Regions from separate parts of the Homo sapiens genome. Here region 2 is linked to region 1. A link means that fine-mapping ties the variant in region 1 to the expression of a gene that starts in the linked region. Tissue or cell type: blood mononuclear cells. Region 1 holds a variant in brackets; the other region holds the start of a gene. All regions are shown on one strand. Distances are from middle to middle.

What was found. PIP is the estimated chance that this variant, and not a neighbour inherited with it, causes the effect.
Region 2: SLC1A3 starts here. The variant in region 1 is fine-mapped to the expression of SLC1A3 in blood mononuclear cells (TOPMed, PIP 0.90).

What each region holds. Positions count from the first base shown.
Region 1 is chr5:36,682,339-36,690,540 of GRCh38, reverse strand. SLC1A3 (solute carrier family 1 member 3) reads right to left here. Exons shown (of 10, transcript NM_004172.5): 9 at 6,543-6,677; 10 at 2,207-4,476. The coding sequence ends at 4,272. The region is part of intron 1 of SLC1A3-AS1 (SLC1A3 antisense RNA 1); the gene reads left to right. Among named protein-coding and RNA genes, the nearest start is that of SLC1A3-AS1, 39 kb to the left of the region's middle. RefSeq lists a silencer at 247-446 and an enhancer at 902-1,131. The variant A/T (reference allele first, on the strand shown) is at 4,653.
Region 2 is chr5:36,601,701-36,609,877 of GRCh38, reverse strand. SLC1A3 (solute carrier family 1 member 3) reads right to left here and starts at 3,272. Exons shown (of 10, transcript NM_004172.5): 1 at 3,143-3,272; 2 at 1,274-1,549. The coding sequence starts at 1,454. RefSeq lists an enhancer at 3,066-3,165.

The DNA.
Region 1 (8,202 bases):
GGTGAGCTCCGCATTCCCCCTGGTGGCCACTATGAGGCTCGCTCCCCGGACGCCGCCTCGCGGATCTCGTAGATTTCTCATCTCCCGCTTTCCCTCTAGGACGCTGCCCATCACCTCCCTCGCTCTCCCTTCCTTCTTATTGTCAGCGTATTCATTCGGAGCCCTCCCTCGGCGTGACACGTCCCGACTGCTTTGGCCCCAGGACGCGGCCACACAGAGCCGGCCATTGTTGCTCCAGTTCTGGGACCACCCGGGTGGGAGAAGGGGAAGCGCGGCCGCTGCGGAGGCCGCTCGACTGACGGCAGCCTGGGGTCGGGGCCCGCGGCCACCCGGAAGGAGGGCGTGCGCCCGGCCCTGCCCAGCCCGCAGGCAGCCACAGCCCCGCAGCCCCTGCGGCGGGGATCCAGCCTTCCCGCCACGCTTCCTCCAGGCCCGTTCAGCTAACAGAACTCACACTTCTGTTTTCAACACTGTGTAGATGAGTCAAGGATTTTACTTTTTTTTCTATGCCTTTACTTATAGGTATAGTGAGGTAAAGTGAGATTTTTTCTCTTGAAAAGGAGAATTTTGCTTGGGTGGGAAGGGACAGTGGTGGTACCAGGATGAATGTGGATACAGGAGGACATAGACTCCTAACTTCTGAGGGTAGGATTTAAATATTTTGTTAAATGTAATAACTTATAAGAAACATTTTAAAAAATGTCAGCCAGAGGCTGGGTGCAGCGGCTCACTCCTGTAATCCCAGCACTTTGGGAGGCTGAGGCAGAAGGATGGCTTGAGGCCAGGAGTTTGAGACCAGCCTGAGCAACATAGCGAGATCCTGTCTCTACAAAAAATAAAAATAAAAATTAGCCTGGGCGTGGTGGTGTGAGCCTATGGTCCTAGATACTCGGGAGGCTGAGGATCGCTTGAGCCCAGGAGTTCGAGGCTGCAGTGAGCCATAATCACAGAGTGAGACCCTGTATCTTAAAAAAAAAAAAAAAAGCTGTGAACCTGCATATTTTTCATAGTTCCATTTGTGAGCACATGTGTGACTACCACATGTTGGGATCTAAGGCCTGCTTCTCCACCCTCTTTGTCATACTCTGGCTGAGAGGCACTTCCCTTAACCATAAGGGGCTTTCCACAGACCTCCCACAGGCAGATGACCTGCTTCTTATGTCTGCATTGTGGAGGTGGCCAAAACCCAGCGTGGGCTGCAGAAGGGAAGAAAATGGTCCCGGCAGAAGGGAGCACTTCCTAGCAGTGGATTGATTTTATGCGGCACTTCCCAGAACGTTTCACAGGGGGCAAATATTGATCTGCTCAGGGTGGCCAGGCTTGGTTCCCTCAGTTTGTGAGCAGCCTTTCTTTTCCCAAACTGGTCATGTAAATACCACATATGCCTTCACAAAAGTTAGGGTGTATGGTTCAAACATAGCGATTTGTAAATTTTTTTTTTTTTTTAGTCGTAAGATCTGTTAGAGAAACCGATTGAAATTAAGAATTTTACCCCCAGAAAAAGGCAAATGCACAAAACTTTCCCCACAACTTCAAGGGCGATGAACCTATTGAACTCTCATGTGGATGACCTAGGGGTCCATGGATCCAACTTAAGAGCCTTTCCTCTAGGTGGCTGCCACCTGCTGGTAGAGAGGGTCAGATTATAGGCTCCAGACACTACTTCAATCTGGAGATTTCATGATATTGCCTGCGAATTCTTTACTAAAAAGCATGATGAAAAGTAGTCATCCGTAAGCTGTTCTTAATGAATAGAGCACCAGCACAATGGCTGTTTCTGGAAATCCCTTGAGATCTTAGTTAGCTCTTTTCACAAATGGTGGTAATAATCACAGAGATAAATCTACCTAATTTGGAGGTCAGACAGGAAGTTACTTTTTCGGAAGGGCCCATGGTGGTATCACACTTTTCTAATCCCGACATGGAAATGATTCAATTCATCTGAGAAATTTGAATCTGACATGGACAAGGAAGTATGGCCTGCTACAGCAAAGTGCTCCGCTCACCTCCTCCTGTTTCCAGCTCCAGTTCTTGGAGTTGAGCAGGAGAGCATGTCCTTACTTATTTTCTTGTGGCTGGCTCTGCCAAGATTTTACCTTGCTGCATGGGATCCTTCCAGAGACTGCCCTGAGCTTATTGTAATATTTCCATGAATGGAAAATGTATTTTTCTTTGAGGAGAAGAATAACAACAACGTGCAAAGATGTTAATGTAAAACTATTTTTTTCTTTATTGAAAATACATCTACAAAGTAATGCTTCCCAGTCCACACTGAGTGCATGTGTATGCAGAGCCTGTGATGGCTTGGCGAGAGGATGGGCTCCCCACAGGACCTTTCCATAAGAAATGGTTAGTATATTAAAAAACACATATTGTGTAACAGAATTAAGTTGATATGATTAAGTCTTTGCTCTACTAGTGTCTTAAGAGGACAGCCACGTACTTTAACATTTGTAGTGTATTTCCGAAATAGAGCCTCGACATTAAATGGTTACTGCACCACAGCCTAATGTTAACTTTTATGCACAGAATGCTTGGGGTCTATATAAAAATATCTCTAATTGTATATCAGAGGATCTATGTCTAGATTTTTCAGTTTGTTAGCATAATTAAGTCCATTCTTCACCATTTTCAGCCAGAAACTCAAACACAGCTGCTACTGCCTGACAGCTCCCACTCAGCGTCTTTGACTGGATATTCCTTAGGGGGTAAAAATTAATCTCTAAACCTGGGAGCTGCCTTGCCTGAAACTAATGCCCCTGCTGTTTTTTTCTCATAACCTCATTGACAGTGTCTTCATACTGATTCATCTTCTACCATTTCTCTTATGGACACAAACAAAACAAAAGCAAACCCCACTCCAGCTGAAAGTTTTGAATGATTTGATAAGTGGGATTCCAAAACAAATAAATATTTTGTTTCCCTCATTCTAAGGACTTTTGATTAAAGAAAAACACTTTCAAATAAGAAATACCCACTCAACTCATGGACTTCTATTAGAGAGCTCATTCATTTGACTTCTTTCAAATATATAAGTCGTCTTATGTTTTGGTAAGCAGACTTCACGGGGGGAATGATTTTGGACTCGAGAAAAAGTGTTTCAGGTGAAAAAAAAAGCCAGAAAAATGAACCTCTTCTTTTTTATTCTTCCTTAAAGAAGACCTGTACTCTTGGTGTTTTCAAATCCTTTGTTTGTAATGTTGCCTGTGCTCAACTCTTTCCTAGCTCTTTAGTGTTCCACAGTGTGACCACAAGCACCCTTGCTAGCTGCTAGTCTTCTCATCTGTTTTCGAAGTCTATCATCAGTTGAGGAGTGGCAGGAGACATTCTTCCCAGAGTAGGAAAGAAGGGAATACTTCCCCCATTGGGATGAACTGGGCAAAGAGTTTGATGAATAATCCCACTCCTGGAATGGCCTCCTGCCTGGCGACTTGCATAACCTGCACTTTGCTCACAGGACCTGGTGACCACCACACACAGCCATCCTGTCCTTAGTTAGAAATGTTCACTCCCATTGAAGTGTCTTTTCTGAAGGCCTCGTGCTCCATGGATGGTACAGGGTGTTCTGAGGGGAAACAGAGGGCAGGTGCTTTCATGACATCACAGGATGTCTGGGCTGGAAGAGACCATGAAGACTTCTAGGGAAGTCCCTCATTTTATAGATGAGGACACTGAGGCCTAGAGGTGAGATGGGACTTGCTCAAGGCCACATGGAAACTTTGCCTTCTGTCTGTCCTCACAGCTGTGCTAGATGTATATGTGCACCTAGCTACTAATGAAATAGGTATACCAGTCAGAAGAGAAAGGGATAAAATCTTACTGTCCAACTGATAACCGGTTGTAATTCAAGTTGTTAACATTTTGAAACTAAAACTGAATTGTATTCTGAAAGATTTTTAAATTTCAAAAGTTGATTTTAAAATGTTTTTAGCCTACTATTTGTCTCTTTAACTTATATAAAAAAATCACATTTATAGGATTGTGTGCCACATAAACTTGTAAGATCTGATCAACACTATTTGTGATCTTGGTACCTTATTCGGTAAGACTAACATGAAATGATTTAAAAATTTCAATTGTGGGATGAAAATTGTACACTTTGGCCACCCAAAATCCTCCCTTGTGTTTTGGAGGACTATTTTCCAGTCTTATCAGAAGGGAGGAAAGGGAAGATGACGGGCTTGCTGGAGCGAATGAGCTGTAATGAGATGGAAAGATTTTATAATGGTTTTTAACACCTGGTGCTCAAGAAAGTGTTTCTTTATGTTAGTCTACATCTTGGTTTCACTGTCGATGGGTTTCTCAGTTTCATTGTCCTGTGCAATCAGTTGATATGGTTTCTTCATTTCATTCTCTTCAATCACTGAGTTACCCATTTCAACATCTCTGTTCTTCAGTTCATGTCGTGACAAGTGCTCCACAATCCCAGCTCCCAGGGAGTCTCCCAGTACGTTGGTGGTGGTCCGGAGGCGATCCCTGCAGGCAGGGTGGGGAGGAGGGAAAAACGAGGCTCCCGTGAGCATCACAAGTTTTCAACTTACGTTAGGAACTGGCCAGCGAAGCACCTCTTAACATTCAGTTCGCCGTATCTACCAACTGCAAGATTACGTAATAGACACATAATATTCATAATAGTAGCTATTAAAGGTTAT[A/T]AGGCCATATAGATGATGAATGTTCAGTTATTAGTTTGACTGAAGTGAGAGTCCCAACAGTGGGGAACGAGCCTTCTCTTTAAGCCATTCTCATAATAATACTAAGATGTCATTTGTCCCTCTCAGTCTCATTTTCTCATGAATGTATAGTGGAGTTTTGCAAAGACTACATGATGTGTGATGTCACAACTCACTGAAGCAGTTGTGAAACTGCAGAAACAGGAAACTCCAACTGTCTTGTATTAAGCCAGACATTAAGAAAACTTGCAAAACATAAAATAGTACCATTCTTTTCACTAAATATTGGGGTCGAGGCCGGGCACCGTGGCTCACACCTGTAATCTCAGCACTTTGGGAGGCCAAGGCAGGTGGTTCACCTGAGGTCAGGAGTTCGAGACCAGCCTGGCCAACATGGTGAAACCCGTCTCTACTAAAAATACAAAAATTAGCCAGGCGTGGTGGCGGGCGCCTCTAATCCCAGCTACTCAGGAGGCTGAGGCAGGAGAATCACTTGAACCCAGGAGGCGGAGGTTGCAGTGAGCCAAGACTGTGCCATTGCACTCTAGCCTGGGCAACAGGAATGGAACTCCATCTCAAAACAAGTAAATAAATAAAATAAATTTTGGGGTCGAAATGGTTGTTTTTTGCAAAAAAATGCTATTTATGTTAGCATATATAACCTTTTTGTTTAAAGATGATAATAAATTCATTCCATTATTTTATTTTATGAATTATTATCACCTTTAAATAAAACATGTAATAAATTAACAAGTGGAAATTTATAAGTGTGTCTAATATGATAAATATGAATAGATACAACCCATATAGATCAAATGCTGTTTCAGTTCTCAATAATTTTGAAGTGTAAAGATCAAAGACTGTGGAGAACTGTAGCTTTATATGAGAGTGCTCATGTTAACTGATGCTGACTGTGGGCCAGACAGTAGGCTGCATGCTTTCTAGGCATCATTGCACTGAATCTTGCAGTACCCCTAGGAGGTAGAGGACACGGGCACCCTCATTTTACAGAGGTAGAAACTAGGGTGGTTGGGTAATCTGCCCGGTCTCACACAAGGTCAGGACACAAACACAGGTCCAAGTAACTGGGGAGTGAATCCTCTCGCCCAGTCTGGGGTTTCACGCACACTGTCAAGCTCTTTTCATGTTGCAGTTCTAGTGAACATATGTTGTGTTAACTCCAACACGTACTCTGTTCTAGGCTTTGCTTTGGGCATCCTGGGGAAAGATTTTCAAAAGTGGAAGGAAATTTTTAAGAGAAAAGGCACAGAGAATGCCAGCTGGAAGAGCGAGGGAAGGGGGCGAAGGGATGGGCCTGTAGAGGTTAGAGTTTGAGAATGTGGAGGGCACATTTCTTGTAACTTTCCCTAGATCCGAAACTCAATTCCACTTAATGACACTAGCTCTCTTCCCAGTGTCGGCATAGCTCAGCCTCACCCTATTGGGCTAGGATGGGAAAATCATTCCCACTGGAATGGGAAGCACACAGAGGCAGGGCCTAAGCTGGCATGTGGGGCCTGCAGCTTTGTTCCAGCTGCTGTGGTGTCATGTTGTGCAACTCAGAAACAGCCTTGCTGATTTATGTTGCCTTTGCAGACAGCGGGTTTCCCAATTCCTGAATGGCTTTATGGAGTGAGATGTGTGGCAGCCAGATGTGCCCCTTAGGCTGACAGGGGAGTGAGTGCACATGGCATCTGGGGCTCGGTCTCCAGATAAGGACCAGGGGTCAGACAATAAGGACAATTTAACTATGGGCCGAGAGGCCCCTCTCCTCAGAGTTCTTTCTGTAGATGTGCCAGGCTGCCTGGTGCCCTAGAGTGACAGAGGGGGACCCTGTGACAGTGAGCTGGAATGCAGGCCAAGCATACTCACAGGAACCAGTCCACCGCGATGATGAGCGTGATGTCGTCAGTGGGCAGGCCGACAGATGTCAGCACAATGACCATAGTGACCAGGCCCGCCTGAGGAATTCCAGCTGCCCCAATACTGGCAGCTGTGGCTGTGATGCTGTTAACAGAAGTACCAGAACAGAAAACACTTTTACAAAGCTCCCCACGTAGAGCATATACGCTGCAAAATACGCACGGTGCCGATGCCTGACTTGCCATGTAACACAAGAGGACGCGCTTCAGAAAAAACGTAAATGAGATTTTTTTTTTTTTTGAAACAGTATCTCACTCTGTTGCCCAGGCTGGAGTGCAGTGGTGCAAACTAGGCTCACTGAAACCTCTTCCTCCTGGGTTCAAGTGATTCTCGTGCCTCAGTCCCCTGAGTAGCTGGGAATACAGCTTCATGCCCCCACACTCGACTAATATTCGTGTTTTTAGTAGAGCAGGATTTCACCATGTTAGCCAGGTTAGTCTCGAACTCTTGACCTCAAGTGATCCACCCACCTTGGCCTCCCAAAGTGCTGGGATTACCGGCATGAGCCATCATGCCTGGCCCGTAAATGAGATTAAAAAAAAAAAAATTGAACTAATCATCATGCTAACTAATATTTATCATGTGCTTACTATGTGTCTTCTGATATACTAAGCATGGTTTATCTAATTTGGTCCTCGTACAATGACCCTTGTGAAGTTGGACCTATTATTCTAGTCGTTTTTAAATAAACTGGCAGCTATACACTTTTAAACATCCCTGAAAGTATTTTGTAAGGCAAAGTCTAAAATGCTGTAGAGTTACAATAATAATTTGTTTCTAGTAATTCCCCTATCCAAGTGGAGGGTTGTAAAGTTACTGAACATTCATGATTAATGTTGTCAAAAGAATCAAATTTGGTTTCTTAGTTTGGTTTGCTTAGTTAATTCAAAAGCAAAATGATTTATGAACAAAGTTTTATAGTATTAGAAATACTTTTTATGAAGGCAGTGTAGACCTGGCTTGCAAAGCAAATGTTTTATAAATAGTAAAGTATTATCTGGTTATAAGTGGTATTAATAAAGTATTAAGTCTGTCACAGAAAGTATTCATGGTCCCCATACTGGTCCCCTTCTAAGATACTGGGACTTTTAGCTGGTATATGGCTCCCCAGAATGAAGACTACACTTCCCAACCTCCCTTGAAGCTTAGATTAAGTTCTGGCCAGTCAGACATGCATGGAGGTACTGAGCAACTTGCAGGGTATACCATCTCCCCACTTCCGACTGACTAAAATCTGGGGGTGGTGAGTCATCCCGGACCACCTGGATAATGATAATACCCTAGAGACTTAGTCTCTTATACCACAGAGCACCTATCAATCAGCCTTGAAGGCTTTGTGGAGCAGAGCTGTGCTGCATGAAAGAGAAATATATTTCTATCTTGCTTGTCACTGTTACTGTTATTTTTAACTCTGTCACCTTTTTTTTTTAATAACCCAGAGCCTTTCAATCAATATGCCAAAGTATAGGTTACAGGTGAGCTGAGATAATGATCTCCTAAGTCCCATTATAACTACTTTGGGCCTGAGGTTCCCAGAACCCCCAGGTCAGTCATTGACCTCTGGCCCTGATCAGCCTTTTCCTTTTTACTCCGATGCATCCTACTACAA
Region 2 (8,177 bases), 81 kb after region 1:
AGACTGTATTTTGCATTGACTTCCAGGACAATGATGTGGGACTGAAATATTTCACCCAGGAATATATTCAAGCCTGGAAACCTACTGTGGAAAGCCATTACTTCTCTGGGTCAGTTAGGACATGTTCTCTTTGAATATCTCTAAATTAATTGAACCATCATTAATCACCAGTGATTACTAATGGAAGACAATGATGTTAAAATGGGATGTATCTAAAATCTTGTGACAAACTCTCCTGCTATACTTCATTTGTCTACAATTTAAGAATTCAATTTTCTTGAAAAAAGTTATATTTACACACTACAGAATTTTCTTAATCTTTATTAAATCATTACCTCTTTAAAGTTGATGGAAATCTTGGCAAACTCCAAAGTAGAGATTAAAACGGTACTGAATGCCTCTTTTTTGGTGGCAAATTGGTAGGTTAAGTTGGAATATTTTTACAACCTGGCATTGGCGTATATGTTTGTCAATCTAAGGATTTCTGTATTGGTTTGGTCAAAAATTCCAAATAAGTAGGTTTTTTCAGCTATATTTTAAAGTAGGATCAATGCCACCCATAAGTAATAAACTATAACTTTTAAGATCAATAAACAAAACAAAACAATAATATTTTATTAGTACAGATTGCTGTCAACCCTGCTAAATTAGTAAGAGATGGAAATGATTCAAAAAAAGGTATAGCTGGTTATGGCAGGCTCTGCAAAGCAATGAATGAAAGAGATCTGTGTTAACATTTTCCCCAATCTACCTTTCCCAGTTGCTGGGTGAGAGAGTGCAAACACATAAAATATTCGGTCTCTGTGCCTAAGCGTTGATACTCAGCTTCAAGTCAGCACCAGTTAGAATATAATTACTATTTGGAACCAACATGTCATTTTAGGTGTACTAATTGTATAAATTAGTTTTAAGTGCAACTGACATTGTATATAATTACATTTTGGCCAAATCTAGCATGCTTGCTTTGTCATGCCTAATGATTAAATGATCACTTCCTTATCCTTACATGAAATGGGAAAATATTTTATTTATTTTTCTTCCTCACACAATTGATTTGCATAATGCCTAATGATGCCTAATGATGTGTTTACTATATATTGCTCCAAACAAGCCAAAACAGTCATTTTTATGGAGAAAAATCATCAAGTTCAGAGGAAAGCCTAGGCTACCATTTTGATACCTACAACTAGTTCATCTGATAATATTCCCCGGGCAGCCAGATGCCCCAGAGAAACAAGATACAGGTTTTTTTGTTTTTAATCAAATGACTCACCCACAATGACAGCGGTGACTGTGAGCAGCACAAAAGCATTCCGAAACAGGTAACTTTTAACATCCTCCTTTGTAATGTTCTGCACTTTCTTCTTGGCCAAAAGTGTGCGTTTACGGACTCCCTGCTGGAATCTCTCCATCCTGCCCCCCATCTTGGGCTCTTCTCCATTGCTTTTAGTCATATTTTACTTTTCTAGGAGGGTCTCTTCTTTGCACTTCAGTGTCTGGGAATCACCCACAGAAAGCCAAACCTCCTCTTTGGTATTAGAAAACACAACTAGAATGGGAGAAAAAGAGACATGAGTTATAGCCTCCAGGGGTGAGAAATCAGTGCTGCTCCACACCAGGCAAGCTCTTGGCAAATTGCATAATCTCAGCAGGAATCAAGGACTGGAGAGCCACAATACCAGACCTCAAGGTTGCAGTGTGCATATTTTAGTGGACCACGTGTGAGAAATGTGCATAAATTCGGAATATATTCTATTTTCTTTTTAAAAATCCGTCCTTCCCCTTCCAATGAGGCTATAAAAGGGTTCTTCAGAGCTAGATCTGACTGAGAACCCCTATTCCCACCCTCCCCCGCAGAACCCAGCTGATGCCTTGCACAACGTACACAATCAGTAAATGTCCAATTGAACTGAATGCACAGAAAGTATTCAATCATTACTTGACAAATTATGCTGTATACATGGTTGAAAGCATAACCAGGTCAATAAAAATAATTAAGATACTGATAGGTGGGAGTTGTCTCTGTTACATGCAGTAAAGTAACCAGCTATTTTCTTCATTAAGAAAAAAATATAATAATATCTACTAGTAAATATGGTCATAAAAAGAACACAAGTGCCCACAGTACATGGGAAATACATGTGACTATTTTACAGGGTAATTTTTTCATTTTTTTTCCATGAAATAAGCAAAGTGCTCTGGGCACATCTATAAATCATCTGAAATCACAATTCAGCTTCGTTTATCACAAGTAGAAGTATGAAGTAGTGTTTTTCTTTGTGACACACATGCTGGAATCTTCCGAGGAAACTATCGCTGACTTTTTAGCGTTTTAAAATTTAGGATTTCTAGAACAGATGAGATGAAACCAATTTTCATTCCAAACATTACAGCTTGTGGTTTCTGGTTTCTTTAAAGCACTCACGCTATTTAACTACATTTCAGTAAATCTCTTTCCTGGTGGAAATCAGCTGTTCTGAAAAATCAAGGGATTCCTCCTGGTGCTTTACAGGAGCTCTAATCCATAGCCCTTCCCATAATCAATCCGAGTGAAAACCAGCCGTACCATGGATGTGTGTCGCTGCCAACGCAAGCAGCCAGCGTGTGCGCCTGTGGGGGAGGTAACTGGAAACCAAAGGACTCCTCGCAAATGACTTCTCGCAATCCCAGTGCAGGAAAAAAAAAGACTTGTCTTAACAGTTTGCCTTTTAAATAAAATTGCAAGTTGGGGTCAGTGATACTAAGACTTCTAATTTGTTTAAGACTTCACACTGGATTAAATGCTTAGGGAGAAGTGAAGACCGGGAAATAGGAGAGACCAGATTTTTTTTTTTTTTAAACTAATAGCTCTGATTCCTCTTACCAGTCACTTTTAAGCAGATCCGCTCAACCTTGATCCTTTTCTAGATCTCGCGCCACAATCTGCCCCCAATCCACCCCGAATGACTCAACTCCGAATTAACAGCGGACCCGGCATAAACAGACACCACACTCTCACGACGTGAGATGACTAACAAGGACTTTATCTACCAAAATGGCTAGCCTTGATTCAGGCTACTCCTCTGCTTGGAAGGCAAAATACATCGGCAGAGAAGTGAAAGGAGAAATTAAACCCAGCAGGAACACAGAATGTGACACTTACCTTTTCTGATTTTGTAAGGGGTGGAAGATATCAAGCAGTAACGAGGTGAATTCCCCAGCAGGTACAACGGAGCAACAATCCGCAGCGCGCGTAAGCAGGCAGGCTAGCCCTGACAGTGTGCATGTGCTCTGAAACTGCAAGTTACTATCAGGGCAACTTAAGAAAAGGGGAGGAGTCTGTGCCCGGGAAAGGAGGAGTGGGGAATGGAAACCGCACAGGGAGGAGGGGGAAACCCCGAGGTTTCTGGAATATTGATTAATCTTGGCACACCAGAAGCAGGCTTGCTGGCTTTGTTTTGCTCCTTAGACCACTTTCACGCTTTGTCAGTTCACTGTCATTAGAAATGCAAAACCGGGACTAGGAAGAATTGAAAAATAAAGCGCACACAATCGGAAAGCTGAAAGTCTTGATTAGAACGTTTCAAAGACTTTTCTAAGGCTAAATTTAATTACCTCACATTATTGCATGTTTCCTCCCTTTCAGGGAAGACGAGGGTGTGCTCTTTAGCCTGGTTGTACAACTGTTACGAGAAAGTTCCTTTTTCGAATCGGGGAATTAACTGACGTTTCTTGGGAAGACACTGAATGCAGACAAGTATGTAGAAAAAAAATAATGCTTACTACGATTCTCTAAATTTGTCTAAAGTTAGGGACATGCCTCTATTTCAGCAGTTGAAACTTCAAAACTTCATTTTAACAAACCTAATTTAGCTCACACTGCCTGTGTTGCAAAGACGGAAAAGGTAGCAAATGTAAAGAGACTGGAATTTTTGCCAAACTAGAAAATGAAAAGCATTTTAAGACCAAGAGTGCAAAGTACACTTGAGATTTGGTGATTCAAAAGATAGGTTGCTGTTCAGATGTCTCCATTTTAAAGGATGCTAAATGTTCTCCCTACCACACACAACTTTTTTAGAGCTAAAAAATTCTCATTGCCTTGAGAAGGTAACTTGAGCTTCTAGTCCACTTTTCTTAAAAGAAAAATAAATTGTGAAAATAGATATTAGAAAATAAAAAAAAATTTTTTTGAGGTGACTTATTCCCAAAACTTAAATCTTCTTTAGAAGGAAGAAAATGGTTCATTAGAAACAAAAATTTATACCAGAATCACAGCCTGAGGTTTGGATTCTTGTTCACTGAATTTAATATTCCCCATGCAAAATATGCTCAATTCTTGGTCTATTATTCAACAAGAAAGTATGTCTTTTTTCCCCTCAATACAAATCTCTGGAGATCATAAAGAAATATCTCCTTTCACCCTCAACTGTATGTCCTTTTAAACAGCTACTGGTTGGAAAGCAATGGTGAATCATGTCAATGCTTTAAAATTACAAATCAGCAGCAATTATAACAGCTTTCTAACATGCTATCATTTTAAGAACTTACTGAAAGTACATGCTTTTGACATTCCCAGCCCTCAGTGACCCTTCCCTTCCTCTGATCTCCTAGGTCACTGAGCATCTATACTACATTGTTTAGCACTTAATTATACCATGTTTTGTACTGCATCCTTCTTTTTAAGCTCATGTTAAGTTTTGGTTTCTCAACTAAATTATAAGTTCTTTGAGGGCAAGAACTTGTCTTATACCTAATACAGAGTCAATATTAAGTAACTCTTTTTAAGTGGGTGGAATAATATTAGGATGTGAAACAAAACGCTTTTCAATCTTTTGTGTTAAAACACAATTACTAGTTTTTACATTGGTGCCTCTGGTTTAGGTGCATGGAGCCATTTCTCAATGCCATGACTACTTTTAAAAGCATTTATTTACTATACCAGGTCCTATCTGAGCCATGAGTTTAGGATTAATTTGCACACCCCCCCCCCCCACCGCTTTTTTTTTTTGGTGGAAATGACTTTGACTTGTATTGCAAGGGAACTCGAAAGAGAAATCTGATTTTAAATGGGGTTTCAAGCCCAGTGGCATTTCCATTTTTTGTTTTTATTTTTGTTAATAGGCAAGAAAAAGGGCTGGAAAACCACACTTTGGTTAGCATAGAGATGGGAAGACCCTGGTGCCCTTTCTTTTTCACTTTTTTTTTCCTCTCTAATCCCTAAAGCTTGGTTAAAAACCATTTCATTATTTCAGTTTGTGTAGACATTATGGGAGTCTGGTATTCTGTTGAGAAGGGAAGTAATTCACCACTGAAAGTTTTGTTGGCTGTAATAAAACCTAATGAGAAAATGAGATGCAAAGAGTCTCAGTTCAGAGTTCATCCAATTTTAGTCTGGAGGGAAACATTGGGAATTACTTCTTTAAGCACCACTTTCTCTTTCTGGAAAGCTATAGCAAAAGTCATGCCTGGGGGCCTCCTGGGTTTCCTCAACGCGTATTTCTACCTTTTCCCCTCTACTTTATAGTTAAGTCCCTTGAGCTTTAAAACATCTTTTTTTTTCCTTCTAGAAACACTAAATAAATGAAAGATCAAGAAATTATGAACAAGTCTCTGTATGCTGTATTTCATTTAAAGCTACTCAGGGTGGGAGACACAGAAGCTGGGGGATCATATTAATGTTAGTATTATCAAATGAAAAAAACACAAACACCAGCAGCAAATGCTGTTCCTGCTGAAAAAATCTGTCAAGATCTTTCTGTGAACATTGTGTGATGAAGTATGTTATCAGTAAATTCTTTCTTTGGGAAAAAATGTCAGTATAACAAGAAATAACCAAATCCAACCTGTCCTTAAAGGGAGCATTTATTGGTTTGAAGAACAAGAGATTACGGTAATAAGCACGTGCTGATCTTAGCATGGTACAGGCCAGTCAAACTTCACCATTCAAAATTAGGAAATTTTGGTTAATTGGATTTTTTTTTGAGCAACAAAATGGATTAGAAAACCTTTTAATCTTTTTTCAATATTTTCCAAGTTGATTTTTAATTTAATGATGGTTTTAAAATCATTCCTTGTTTAAATAGCTTGCATTTTAGGATCATCATGAATGTCAATTCTCCTCCTAGAATTTGGAAATTGTAGAATGCTAAGACAATGAACAGGACCTGACTTAACCCCAGAGTGTAACAGTGGATGTGTTAGAGGCAGTAGGTGTAGAAGAACTTGTGGTAGTTGTCTTCCATTTTGTTTTGATTTTTTTTTCTTCTTAAATATGAATGTAAAAAGCAGAACAACAAAAAAACCTGTGGTGAAGTCTGGTTAGTTGAATTTTTAAATAACTAGGTTTTATTTTAAAGTTATAGTCATATGAAACCTAAAAACATCCAACTACAGAGAGGTGAACTAAAATTAACTTTATCACATTCATTTATTCTTTCAACAAACATTGAGCAACCACTGTGTTCCAAATACCAGTTTCTTTCCTCAAGGAGTCCATAAACGCATCGTAATTATTAAGCAGTGGGCCAGGACAGGGCCCAACAGAAGGTTATGAGATCGCTGTGTGCTGAGGCCTATTTACCAGTTAGTATGTCAAAAAGACTGGTAGCAACTTAAGAGAAGGGGCTGTGCCTGGATCCACATTGTGTACACTGTTTCTAGCAGGTGCCTGCCCATAGCAGCCATCGTGTGGCATGGCAGGGAGCCAGTAGTGGTTCCTGCTGGAGAACAGGCCAGTAGGGGCCGAATTTACAACTTGAACTCCACTCCTAGTCAATGGGGAGCCAGCCACAGGATTTAAGCAGGGAAGTAATTTTCGTTTTAGGTAAAATGCAAAGCCTTGAAGTGACTAAGACTTGGGTTAGGAAGTCAAGGGGCAGGAGGAGCATTTACAAACTAGGTGAGTTCACATTCACACTGAAAAATACTGACCATTTGAGAATATCAAGGCCCTTGAAGGGGTCGGCTGACACTGAGCCAAGGCTGCCTCCTGTAGGTGGAGTGTGCACTCTCCAGCCCACTTGTCCTGCTCACTTCACTCAAGTTAGTTATCAGCATGTGGCTCTAGCAAGTTCTTCTGTTTTGACCTCTGATGGGGTTTCAGAAGAGGACTGAGCAAGGGCAGAAGCCTAGGGAACACCAACACAAAGGTGAAGACCAGCAAGAGGAACCCCCCCAAATAGATTCCCACGTGGCAAGAAATTACACCAACTGTTATTTTTCTCACAAGTGATCCAACAGGTGGACATAATGATGCCTTAAAAAACAACATGTTTTCTCCATTCTAAAGCTAAAGAGGGTCTGCTTTTTAATGAAGGCTTCACACATGTTATTGTTATCAATTATTATTTATATTGAAAAGTGACATTTTCCCCAGTTGCTCAACATGAGTCAAGACTTTGTAGAACCAAGAATATCCGTTTAGCTGGAAAAGATTATGTAGGTTGATTGGAATTGAAGCCTTCAGCAGACATGTTTACAGGGCTTTATAGTTTTTTAAGTACTTCTACACACATTATCTAATTTAATCTTCGTGATAATACTTTGAGGTCTATTCTACTCTATTATTACTGGTCCTGTAGACCCAGATGTTGGAGATCAGTAGGGATTGAGTAATATGCTGGGGATCATAGTCAGCGCTAAGACAAGAGTTCTTCATGTTGATTTCTCATCTTTTCCCAAAAGAAGCCCCCAGGAGTTTTTTTAAAGACAGATAGAAAAGAAAGGAAAGAACATTAAAAGGAAGGCCTACAATCTGTTATTTCTTCTGGGGAGTCAACTCTAATCTCCTCCCACTCCCCAAATCCAACGGGCTTGGTTGCCTTTCCTATGTGCTCCCAAGGCCCCCTGGGTTTAAATCTCCAGAGTCATTACCACTTTGTGCTGCAATTCTCCCTGTCTAGACTGCAGGGTCTTTGAGGGCAGGGCCTGTATGGATAACTACTGCATACTTAGGAACCAGAACGGAAGGTGCTCAGAAAAGAGTTGCTGCACCAATAAACAGATGCAACACAGTCACAAACACAAGAGGGTTCATCAGTCCATTTCCAATTCTAAGACTTGGAGAAAGGAAGTCAGTAAACATCAAACTTAAAAGGAAAAAAAAAAGCCAATGAGTTCCTTCTTCAATCATTACAATGTAAAATAAATCCAAGTGTGGCTGCTCTAATTGAATGGGGGGTGGGTGGGATTCAGAGCCT